Homo sapiens: one gene and its partners. The protein of the gene in region 2 purifies or fractionates together with the protein of the main gene of each other region. This does not show direct contact. Each region holds a gene or a part of one and is shown on either strand. Other genes may lie near its edges.

What was found.
Region 1: the proteins of KDM5A (region 2) and ZMYND8 purify together in Homo sapiens (affinity purification with mass spectrometry; 3 studies listed by BioGRID and IntAct, with this or other methods). This does not show direct contact.
Region 3: the proteins of KDM5A (region 2) and GATAD1 purify together in Homo sapiens (affinity purification with mass spectrometry; 6 studies listed by BioGRID and IntAct, with this or other methods). This does not show direct contact.

Annotation. Positions count from the first base shown.
Region 1 is NC_000020.11:47,238,042-47,241,791, forward strand, and holds part of ZMYND8 (MYND-type zinc finger-containing chromatin reader ZMYND8), read right to left. Parts: intron 1,098-3,750; coding exon 717-1,097; intron 1-716. UniProt on the Homo sapiens protein: Chromatin reader that recognizes dual histone modifications such as histone H3.1 dimethylated at 'Lys-36' and histone H4 acetylated at 'Lys-16' (H3.1K36me2-H4K16ac) and histone H3 methylated at 'Lys-4' and histone H4 acetylated at 'Lys-14' (H3K4me1-H3K14ac).
Region 2 is NC_000012.12:387,787-391,536, reverse strand, and holds the start of KDM5A (lysine-specific demethylase 5A), read left to right. Parts: upstream 1-2,216; 5' UTR 2,217-2,445; coding exon 2,446-2,610; intron 2,611-3,750. UniProt on the Homo sapiens protein: Histone demethylase that specifically demethylates 'Lys-4' of histone H3, thereby playing a central role in histone code. Does not demethylate histone H3 'Lys-9', H3 'Lys-27', H3 'Lys-36', H3 'Lys-79' or H4 'Lys-20'.
Region 3 is NC_000007.14:92,450,480-92,454,229, reverse strand, and holds part of GATAD1 (GATA zinc finger domain-containing protein 1), read right to left. Parts: exon of another isoform or gene 3,530-3,750; coding exon 3,470-3,529; intron 1-3,469. UniProt on the Homo sapiens protein: Component of some chromatin complex recruited to chromatin sites methylated 'Lys-4' of histone H3 (H3K4me), with a preference for trimethylated form (H3K4me3).

The DNA of each region.
Region 1 (3,750 bases), on a different chromosome or scaffold from region 2:
AAAATAACTCCAAGAGGTTCCCTCATGTGCACAAGGAAATTTATACAAAGATATTCATTGCAGCACTGCTCACAGTAGAAAAAAAACTGAAAGCAACCTAAATGCCCATTAGTAGAGGAATGCTTTAAATAAACTATGAAATACTATGCAGCAGTCCAAAAGAACAAGGCAGGGCTGTATGTGCTGATGTGGATGGACCTCCAAAACATGCTGATGGGTGGGGGAAAAAAGCAAGTATGGTACCATTTTTATGTTTTAAAAAAGAAAAAAAGGGGGGAAAAAGGACTAATTTTATGGCATCATATACATGATGCGCACATATATACATACAGATATGTATATATACATATACATGCATACATGCATAGAAAAGCTTTTACAACGGTTGATACTGGCCACTGTGGAAGGGAAGAGAATGAAATGGAAGGTAAACGGGATAACAGACTTTTATGTAAAACTTTCTGCCCCCTTTTTAAGGAGAATATATGCATGTATCATTTATAAAATGAACAAAAAAAACTTTTTGAAAGTAAAAAAGCAAGTAGCAAAACAATTTTTAAAAATAATGCCAAATGGAATGTGCAAGGCCTTCAAGATACAATGGCCCGGAAACAAACGAGAACTAAAAAAAAAAAATAAAAGAGCAATGACTTTCTCCTGTCGATGTGGCAAAATGGGAGCGGGCGCCACGGAGAACAGAAGGGGAGGCTCGGTACCTTTCACAGCCTGTCTGGTCTGATATCTCGTCCCCTGGGAAGACTGAGGCTGCTGCTGCTGGTTTTGCTGCTGCTGCTGCTGCTGCTGACGCTGCATCTTCTGCATGTGCCACTTTTGGGAGGACGTTTGAAACTTACTTGATGAGTTCCACACGACCCGCTGCACGGCCGGGGCAGTCTCCTTCGGTAAAAGCGGCCTCTGCTTTTTCACTGGGCTTCCTGTGGCGGCGGGGGCCGGGGCCGTGACGGTGACCGTGGAGGACGTGCTGGTGGTGGCTGTGGCGCCAGCCGCGGAAGTTTGGGCGGAAGAGCGGGTGAGCACCGGTGTTTCCGGGGGAGAATGGCTGCCCACCGTCGTGGATGGTGGAGTTTTACCTACAACTAGCCAATGCATGAAGAAAAAACAAACAAAAACCGGATTTCACTCAGGTTCACCTGCACGGTCTTGACGCCACCAAGTTCTGGGTAAAACCTATGAAAGCCAGGAATGCCGAACCAATTCGACGTGCCAAGCACACCGCGCTGGAGGAGTACATTCTCACCTAACGCTGAGGCCACTTCTGCGGCGTCTTCCATCTCCGCGAGCAGCGGCCTCCTTTACTGAGCGCCGGCCCACATCTGAGATACAAGTCAAGACCTCTAGGGGAGAATGAGGCAAACAAGACCCGGCTCCTGCGCTCAAGCTCCCCTACACCTAGTGGACAATGCGGTGGGCGAACAGATTCAATGTTCACGCCCTTTTCGCAAAGTTAAAATCTAGTCGGCACCTTGAGAAGGGCCCAGCGGAAGTCAATCCAGACAGGAAGAGCAATTCTTTGGCTAGGGAACGTAGAAAGCAATACCTCCAAAGAGCCAGATGGCCTCCCAATGGCCAAAGCAGTAACACTCAGTCACCCAGAAAGAAAAGTATTCTTTTCATCTCTTCTGATTCCCTCCAGGACAAAGTTTGAAGGCGGTACTGATAGCCAGGACAATACCAGGAAAACAAATTCTGCCCCAAGGCCAGAACCTTCCCCCAACGCAATGGTACTGATCTAGGATTGAGTAGCATTGCTTTGGTTTTGATTGGATTTATTCCTATCACCAGCTTTTATGTATACTGTGTGCTACTGTTCTTATTGGGTGGTGTTCAAGTCTAAAATGAGTTTATACTTGCAGATGCTTTTTTCAGGGGAAATTTTTTTACTAAAAAAATGAGGCCAAGCACGGTGGCTCACGCCTGTAATCCCAGCACTTCGGGAGGCTGAGGCAGGCGGATCACTTGAGGTCAGGATTTTGAGACCAGCCTGACCAACATGGGGAAACCCCGTCTCTATTAAAAATACAAAAAAATTAGCCAGACGTGGTGGGAAACTGAGGCAGGAGAATTCCTTGAACCCAGGAGGCGGAAGTTGCAGTGAGCCGAGATCGCGCCACTGCACTCCGGTCTGTGAGAAAGAGTGAGTGAGACTCCGTCTCAAAAAATATTACTAATAGGCCGGGCGCAGTGGCTCACGCCTGTAATCCCAACACTTTAGGAGGCTGAGGTGGGCGGATCACTTGTGGTCAGGAGTTCAAGAGCAGCCTGGCCAACATAGTGAAACCCCGTCTCTACCGAAAATACAAAAATAGCCGGGTGCGGTGGCAGGCGCCTGTAGTCCCAGCTACTCAAGAGGCTGAGGCAGAAGAATCGCTTGAACCCGGGACGTGGAGGTTGCAGGGAGCCGAGACCATGCCATTGCACTCCAGCCTGGGTGACAGGGTGAGACTCCGTCTCAAAATAATAATAATAATAAATGAAAAGTAAATAAAATGAGTTTATTTTATTTATTTATTGAGATGGATTCTCACTCTGTCACCCAGGGTGGAGTGCAGTGGCACAAACTTGGCTCACTGCAACCTCCGCCCTCTGAGTTCAAGCGATTCTCCTGCCTCAGCCTCCCGACTACGTGGGATTACAGGCGCCTGCCACCGCACCCAGCTAATTTTTTTTATTTTCAGCAGAGACGGGGTTTCGCCATCTTGCCCAGGCTGGTCTTGAACTCCTGACCTCATGATCCATCCGCCTTGGCCTCCTAAAGTGCTGGAATTACAGGCGTGAGCCAACGTGCCCGGCCTATTTTATTTTATGTTTTAAAGAGATAGAGTTTTGCTATATCACCCCGGCTGGGCTCAAGCAAGCCACTTCAGCCTCCCGAATAGCTGGGACTACACGGGACGTGCTACTGTGTCCCGCTTTAAATGAGCTTAATTTTATTTTTAAAGAATGAGATTCTTGGCCGGGTGCAGTGGCTCACGCCTGTAATCCCAGCACTTTGGGAGGCCGAGGCGGGCAGATCACGAAGTCAGGAGTTCGAAACCAGTCTGGCCAACATGGTGAAACCCCATCTCTACTAAAGATACAAAAAATTAGCCGGGCATGGTGGTGTGTGCCTATAATCCCAGCTACTTGGGAGGCTGAGGCAGGAGAATCGCTTGAACCCATGAGGCAGAGGTTGCAGTGAGCCGAAATCGCCCCATTGCACTCCAGCCTGGGTGACAGGGCGAGACTCCGTCTCAAAAAAAAAAAAAAAAAAAAGATTCTTTAAATAAAAAAAGTCAAAAATTATACAAGCAGGACTTGAGAACGGGAAAGACAATGAATGTGAATGACTCAAGTTTGAAAAACGCTGCCATATGGAGTATGTCATCTTGGAGGAGCTGGGCTGGTGGGGAATAAAGGGTAGGATTTCAACAGGCGGAAAGTGAGAATCTGGAGGGAACAGCATCAGCCAAGATATGTCTAGGAATACAGAGCATTTGAGTAAGTGAGGGCAGGCAGGGAGGAGGGGCTGGAAGGGAGGTTAGAGCCAGAAGCACTGAGCAGCACGTAGAGGCGATGACCACACGGGAGCTCATTTGTAAAGGTGGCTCAGTTATGGATGCACAGGCCTCAGCCCCCGGTAAGGTGAGCCTATGCCCCAGAGAGGATATCTGGGGAACACACACCACACCCAGGTACAAGCCAGCACCCCGATCTTGGACTATGCTCCCTGACATCAAACTCCTTTAAATA
Region 2 (3,750 bases):
TATTTCTTTTTCCGAATAATATAGTTTTCCAGATTTAAGTGGTAAAAATCAAAGACTTTGTTGTAAATTTTTTTTTTTTTGGAGACAGAGTCTCACTCTTCTTGCCTAGGCTGGAGTACAGTGGCACGATCTCGGCTTACTACAACTTCCACCTCCTGGGTTCAAGCAATTCTCCTGCCTCAGCCTCCTGGATAGCTGGGATTACAGGCGCCTGCCACCACGCCTGGGCTAATTGTTGTACATTTTTAATAGAGACAGGATTTCACCATGTTGGCCAGGCTGGTCTCAAACTCCTGACCTCAGGTGATCTGCCCGCCTTGGCCTCAAAAAGTGCTGGGATTACAGGCGTGAGCCACTGCACCTGGACATAAATCATTATAATAATTGTATGGAATTATTATGAATCACAGCGTCCTGTGTCTACACCCCTTTGTAATGTGACATTGTCACTCTTCTCATAAAAAATTGGAATTTTCCCACTTCTTGAATCTGGGATGGTCTTATGACTTGCTTTGACCAACAGAATATGATGGAGTGATCTTGTACATTTTGGAGTCTAGGCTTTAGGTCTTTGCTTCCACTCTCATCTTCTTAGAATGCTAAGACCACCATGCAGTGGAAAAGCTCCATCTACCAGAAGATGAGAAGCCATGTGGAGAACTAAGACTTCCCAGCCAATAGCCAGCACCAACTGCCAGACACGTAAGTGAGGCCATCTTGAACCCTCCAACCCTAGATGTATTCACGGTTCTCCAGAGAAACAGAACCAATAAGATGTGTGTGTGTGTGTGTGTGTGTGTTTATAAAGATATTTATTTTAAGGACTTGACTCACTTGATTATAGAGCTTCCAAGTCCAAAATCTGCAGGGTGGGTTGGCAGGCTGGAGGCCAGGGAAAAGGTGATGCTACAGTTCAAGTCTGAGAGCCATCTACTGGCAAAATTCCTTCTTGCTCATGGAAGGTCAGTCTTTTGTTCTATTCAGGCCTTCAGTTGATTGGATAAGGCCTACTCACATTATGGAGGGCAATCTGCGTTATTCAAAGTCCCCTGATTTGTTACTCAGAGGTGAGAAAAATCATGGTGTACTAAAGTCACCACAAAAACTTCTGTAGATCATATGGAGAAGCAGGAGAGATGAAGCTGGAGAGCAAAGCAGCAAATCAGCAATTAAAAAAGATGTTTGGAGTTGTTGAGTTTGGAGATGAAAAGTGACAAGATGAATTCTGGATTTTAGACAAAGCAATCCAACGTGTGGATGGAGAGGGATTTGAGAGGAGAAATCAGCTGTTGTCAGTAAGAGTATTTAAATTAGGATACTGGTAACGGGGATGGAGAGACACACGATTATACATGGGAAGTGAGAGCAGAAAGAATTAGGATTATTTCTTGATTTTTTTTTTTTTTTTTTTTTTTTGCTCAGGCAACTGAATAGATGAAGTCATTAATGGAAACCAGGAACACTGAAGAAACAGTGAACAATTAAAGTACTTTGAGTTATCAAAGTGAGATGTCCTGCAGGTAGCTAGACGATACTGGCTGGTAATTCAGGAGAGCTGCTGCGTCCTGTGTAAAAGGAAAAGCAATTCATGGATGGTGGCTAAAGCCAGCTGGCAGGATTTAGGGGATGGGTTAGACCTGCACTTGTTTTGATGGAGAAGAGGCGGGTATAAAGTGGCAGAGTGAGATTACTGTAAAATATCTGCATTCAAAGGGCTAAAAAAAGAGAAATGCTGGAAAGGCTACTTGCTATAAACGCAGCAGGGTAGGTTAAAACAAATTACGAAGCACGGGCGGTGAGGCGCGGTGCTTAAGATTAAGCCCGGCGTGTTTTCGAGTGCACTGATACACAAAAGGGAAAGGGACCCTCCTCACCGGAAGCACAACCTCTGCCCTCTGGGGCATTACACATTCCTCCGCGCCGGAAGAAAGCGTCACGTCGCGTCGCGCCTCGCCCCGCCTCGTTGCGCCTCGCCCCGCCTCGCCCCGTCGGCTTCCCTCAATCCGTACCTCTAGTAAAGAAGAGCTTGTGCCCCTCCCCGACCCCTTACCAAGGGCGAGCTGCGTGGAGTCGTTGGACTGGGCAGAACTTTGGCGGGCAAGGAGACAAACAGCCACACTGTGCTGCCGGGGAAGAGAAGAAGAAGGAAAGGCCAGACACACAGGCGTCGTGCAGCTGCGGAAGGATTCCGTTTCCTGCAGGGGGCGGAGGGATTTGACAGCACGGTAACTTCCGGAAAAGTCCTGAACCTCAGTGGAAAAGCCTTGCAAGAAACAATAACAAACGGGAGGAGGAAGCGATTCTGGGGTTTCTGTGTTGAACGGTTCTTGTCCGCGAAGATGCGCTTCGGCCTCTGTCAGGGGACTTGAACGGGCTTAGTGGGCTTCAGCCAGCTTTTCTCCACCGGTTCCCCACGGGGACCCCCCCCCCCCCCCGGCCGTTGCAATGGCGGGCGTGGGGCCGGGGGGCTACGCGGCGGAGTTCGTGCCACCGCCAGAGTGCCCCGTCTTTGAGCCGAGTTGGGAGGAGTTCACAGATCCGCTCAGCTTTATCGGCCGCATCCGGCCTTTGGCGGAGAAAACCGGCATCTGCAAAATTCGGCCGCCCAAGGTACCTCAGTCTGTGAAGAGAGAGGGGGAGAAGGAAGAATGGGGGAGTCCGTACACTGGGTTTAGCTTTACTTTTCTGATCCTTGTCTCGTTTCATATGTACTCTCTTTTGAGACAACTGGAGCCTGTTTCTGGATGTTTTTGCCTCGGTTTCTTTTGTGGTCTTATGTAGACACGTCTGAAAGCGAGAAAGTGGTGTCTCTTGGGCCTCTTCCGCCTAGAACTTGGGAACTGATACTTTTCTCTCAGCCGTGGGCCTAAAGCCTTTCGTTAGCCGATATGGTGTTTAAAGTACAGTATTATGACGTGACGTATTCTTCCCTCACGTATCCTCATTATGGTTTGATAGTCGGCTATCTCTTTATTCAAGACCTGGTTGGATCAAATATTTGCAGGCCTCATCTCAGGGCTAGGGTTTCTGAAAAGGTTATCTGAGCTCTAGTCTCACCGGATGGTATTACTAGACAAGAACTCCAGACTAATTATTGCCGCAGTGAAAAAGTCTTAGCGGGGAAAGAGAAGGAGCAGCAATAATTCTAAAATTTAGAGGTTTAGGAAAAATTGGTTTATAGTGGAGGTGGAAGGAAATGTTGAAATCTCTTGACGTAGGGAACTCAAGATCAACGATTTTAGAATCACAGTTATTGCAGATAACTAGGTTTGCCTATAAGGTTAATTATAATCTCACCTTTGAGGTAAGGAAAACAGATACTATCCCTTGTGTGGAGGGGATTAATGCCCCAAGAGGTTGAGTGATTACTCAAGGTCAAAGGTGTTTTTCTTTACTCATTAGACCAGTGCTTTTTAAATGATGTTGCTGGACCACTTGCACCAGGGTCAACTGGATGCTTGTTTAAATGCAGATCTCTAGTCTTGTTGTGGAAGTTCTGGAATCTGCTTTTCTAGCAACTAGTCTCAGATGATTCTCATGTAAGTTGAGGTTTTCGAACCATTGCTTTAGTCGTTGCTTGTTAAAGGCATTTTGCTTTATGTTTTGTCTAGTATTAGTAATGATAAAATATTAAGCACTGTTAACCAGTGTTGCTTTTTAAAAAGCATCTGCCGTCACCACTGACTACCACAGAGATAGGCACCGCAGCGTATTAAAAACTTAAATGACAGCGAGGAGGAACTAATTTAA
Region 3 (3,750 bases), on a different chromosome or scaffold from region 2:
TACCATCCCCACTTTTTAAAAAATAGACTTTATTTTTTACAGAGGTTTTAGGTTTACAGCAAAATTGAGCAGAAGTAGAGAGATTTCCCATATACTTCCTGCCCCCACACATGCACATCCTCCCCTATTATCAATAACCCCTCCCACCACTAGAGTGGTACACTTGTTACACGGATGAACGTACACTGACATAGCATCATCAAAGACCAGAGTTCACATTAGGGTTCACTCTTGGTGCTGTGTATTCTGTGGGGTTGGGCAAATGTATAATGACATGTACCCACCATTATAGTATCATACAAAGAGAGTATTAATAGTTTCACCGCCCTAAAAATCCTCTGTGCTCCGTACTATCCCTACTTTGTTAGCCACAGTCATGAAGCAGTAGTAAGGTTAAACGGCTTGCTGAAAGCCATAGAGACTGCAGCCAAAGCTCCTACATCAGCTCAGCAGTCTTTTCTCTGTACTGTCTTGAAAATCATGCTGATTTGGTAAGAATGCATTCTACATGCCACCCTCCCCAACCATCCACTCAAAGAAAATAGATACCATGAATTCAAACCAAAACAAATTCAAACCAAAAATAATCTTTGGATTATAGTCTTCAGGATATGTTTACCTCAACCTACTGTACATCTCCTAGACTCACTGCTGCCTTTCTCTTCCACTCCCAGTTGAGTTTTATATCCTTCCACAACAGGACTACTAGTATTTCTGGCATTCAAGGCTTTGTGTCTCATTCATTTCTGTTCCACTTTATACCCAACTAACTAATGTGTACATGTCCTGTGTTAAATCCTCCCTATGACTCTGGTATCCATCCTATGTCCTCTTCCCTGGGTCTTGAGCTGGAAATAATCTCTCCTCTGAACACCCATAATGGTTGATCCAAATCTTTATGACATCCAGCACCTCCTTAAGTGGGTATAGTTCTTGGTAAGATATACTGTCCTTGACTACGGGAACAGTGTAATTCATTGCTGCTTCCCTTGAAACAGGGACTTGGCAGCAGGTAAAGCTGTAGGAATGTGTACCTCAACCATAAAAACACTTTTGAGGAAATACTTCCAGTAACTGAACTGTAACATAGCACCTGATAGGCCAGGAGTTTTTTCCTGGTGGACCCTTTATCCAAGTGTCTGAGGGTGGCTGTTTCATCTGGATCACTACGGATGGGTCTGGTCTATGCAGGCCACAGTCCGCTACTTGCTAGTTCCTACCCATCAATAGCTGGTCCTTCCTCCCAGCCATCAGTCCAAAGTTATTTATCATATAAATAGTTTGCATTTATGGTTTGTTTGTCCACATGTATAATCAATATTCCCAAATTCTAAATGAGAATACTTGCTTATCATAGGCTTACTATGCATAACACAGCATATTCAAATGTATGCTGAATGAATATGAATCCAAAACATCTACTTTCATAGTGTAAAGGCAGAAATGCAAAGTAAAAACAATGTCTTAGTGAAAGATTCCAGTGGTAGGCAGTGCCTGGCACATAGTAGGTATTTATTAATATGTGCTGTGTTGTGTACACATATATAACACCAAACAGGACTAAGTCACTGATCTGAGTAGTCTCCTCATTTGCTGAGAGGATTCAAGGTTTCTGGTAGAGAAAAGGGGTCCACACGAGAACAGCACTAGTTTAGGCATCACCAGATCTGAGTTCATGGAGTTGTTCTGCCACTGCCATGCTCCAGGGAGGCCACTCAGCCATTCTGGGTCTTGGGTGGTCACACTCTTGGCCGTGATCCCCAGTGGCTCCCACTCAGGCTCCTCTTGCATGCCTGATCTGGGCTCTAGCTCAGTGGCTGGCAGTGACCTCTTGAACTTGCCACCATGGTGCTGCCTGCCAGTGGCACTGCTGTGATAGCCACTACAATACTGGGCATTTGCAACATTACTTGACTACTTTGTTGCATTATTGTCCTTATCATTTAATAAACATGGGTGGCAGACAACAATACGAAAGTACAGACAGTCACAATAACAGGTCCCACACACCCTTCCATGGAGACACACATGGAAACTGTTAGTACACTAAACCCGTAGCTCAACAAGTTGCTTCTGGCCTTAATCTGTAAACTGTGAAGGTAATGCACAAATACGAAGATGTGATAACTCCTACTATTCATTGAGTGCTTACTCTGCTAAGTGCTTAACACATATGATTTCATTTGACCCACTGAGGTAGTAACTATTTACAATTCCTATTTTACAGATGAGACATTAGAGAGGTTGGTCCTCGTCACATAGCCAGTCACTTGCTAAAGCTGTAGAGCCAGGAACTATGCTCTAGGCTTAAGCTCTGGCATGAGACTGCCTCACTCCATGACTTGTTGGCTATGTGATCTTGGACAAGTTAATTAACCTCGCTGTGCCTCAATGTTCTCATCTAGAAAATGGGGATAGTAGTATCCACCTCATAGAGTGAACTGAATGAAATAAAGCATGCAAAATGCTCAGCCACTGATACACAGCAACTGTTTGCTAAACTTTAGATATTTTATTAACAATGTATTAAATGTTGGAAAAATAAGAGAGATGTTTGCCTGTGTACAGACTTTTTTTGTTGTTGGTTTTTCCCAGCCCTGCTGAGGAATGCCAGTGTACCCCTGTTGGGAGGAACAGACTTCGACTATATAGATTGTGGGCTTAAAAAAAAGTATACTTAAGGGCATCATCACTTGAGTTTCTCAGTCCACCTGGGTCAAGTATAAAGTACTAACTCACACCACTGTCCCCTAAATGACAGTTCAGATCCCGAAACACCAAATAGCCTTCAATGGTTGCTGCCTGTGCCGTGCCAGGCCTGCCGAGCCTTGGGGGTCTATGTTCTAATTCCTTTCCTAAGACTTCTGGTTTAAACACAACAATCTGTCACTTCTCTCACTGAGGTATCAGATGTTCATGGACTTTGGCCCTGGGAAACCTGACCTCCTCATTCTTTTATCAAAACATCTTGGAATTCCTCTCACTATGAATTTCTAGTAGGTGTTAATCCTCACTACTGCCCTTACTCAGCTCAACTCCACTTAAAGGCATTTTAGAATCTCTGGGCCTACTCTACCCATTTGACACCACAGTCGACAACCTCTACTAGTCCAAATCCTGTCTCTGTCCTTCTCATTCTTCAATGCCATCGCACTAACGGCTCAGTCTTCCATGGCTCCACACTATACAATCAGCATTTTAAGAATAATTCCTACAATCTACACTAAAAAAAAATACTTAAGATCCTCACATCATGTGTCAGTAGGCACTTTCTCCTCCCACTTCAGCTCTAGATGAGATGTTTTAATAACAGCCACTTATGGGGGAAAACAGCTAAGAAGGGAACAAAAAGTATAATCACACCTTATACAAATAAAGAGTAGCAGAGACCTTTAGACTAATCCAACATTTTAGTGGCACATTACCCACTAGGCCCAACTCTTCCTTCAGTAACTCTACAAAAGCTTACCTTGTAGAAGATTGATTCTGCAGTGATTATAGTGGAAACTGACTCAGGAGCTTTGATGGGCTATGAAAATACAAAAAACATTAGCACATTCATAGTATGTATGTGTCTACAGGCATTTTCCCAGCCCTATGAGAGTTCTGCAATTTGAGAAGTACTAAAATGTATTGTTTGGTGACAAGAACTGCAATAAAAAGATAAATGATTTTCTGAATGTTGTGGCAAAGCAGTCTATTTCCACTGCAATTTCTGCTACTATTAGCTTAAAAATTGCTGAGACAAAG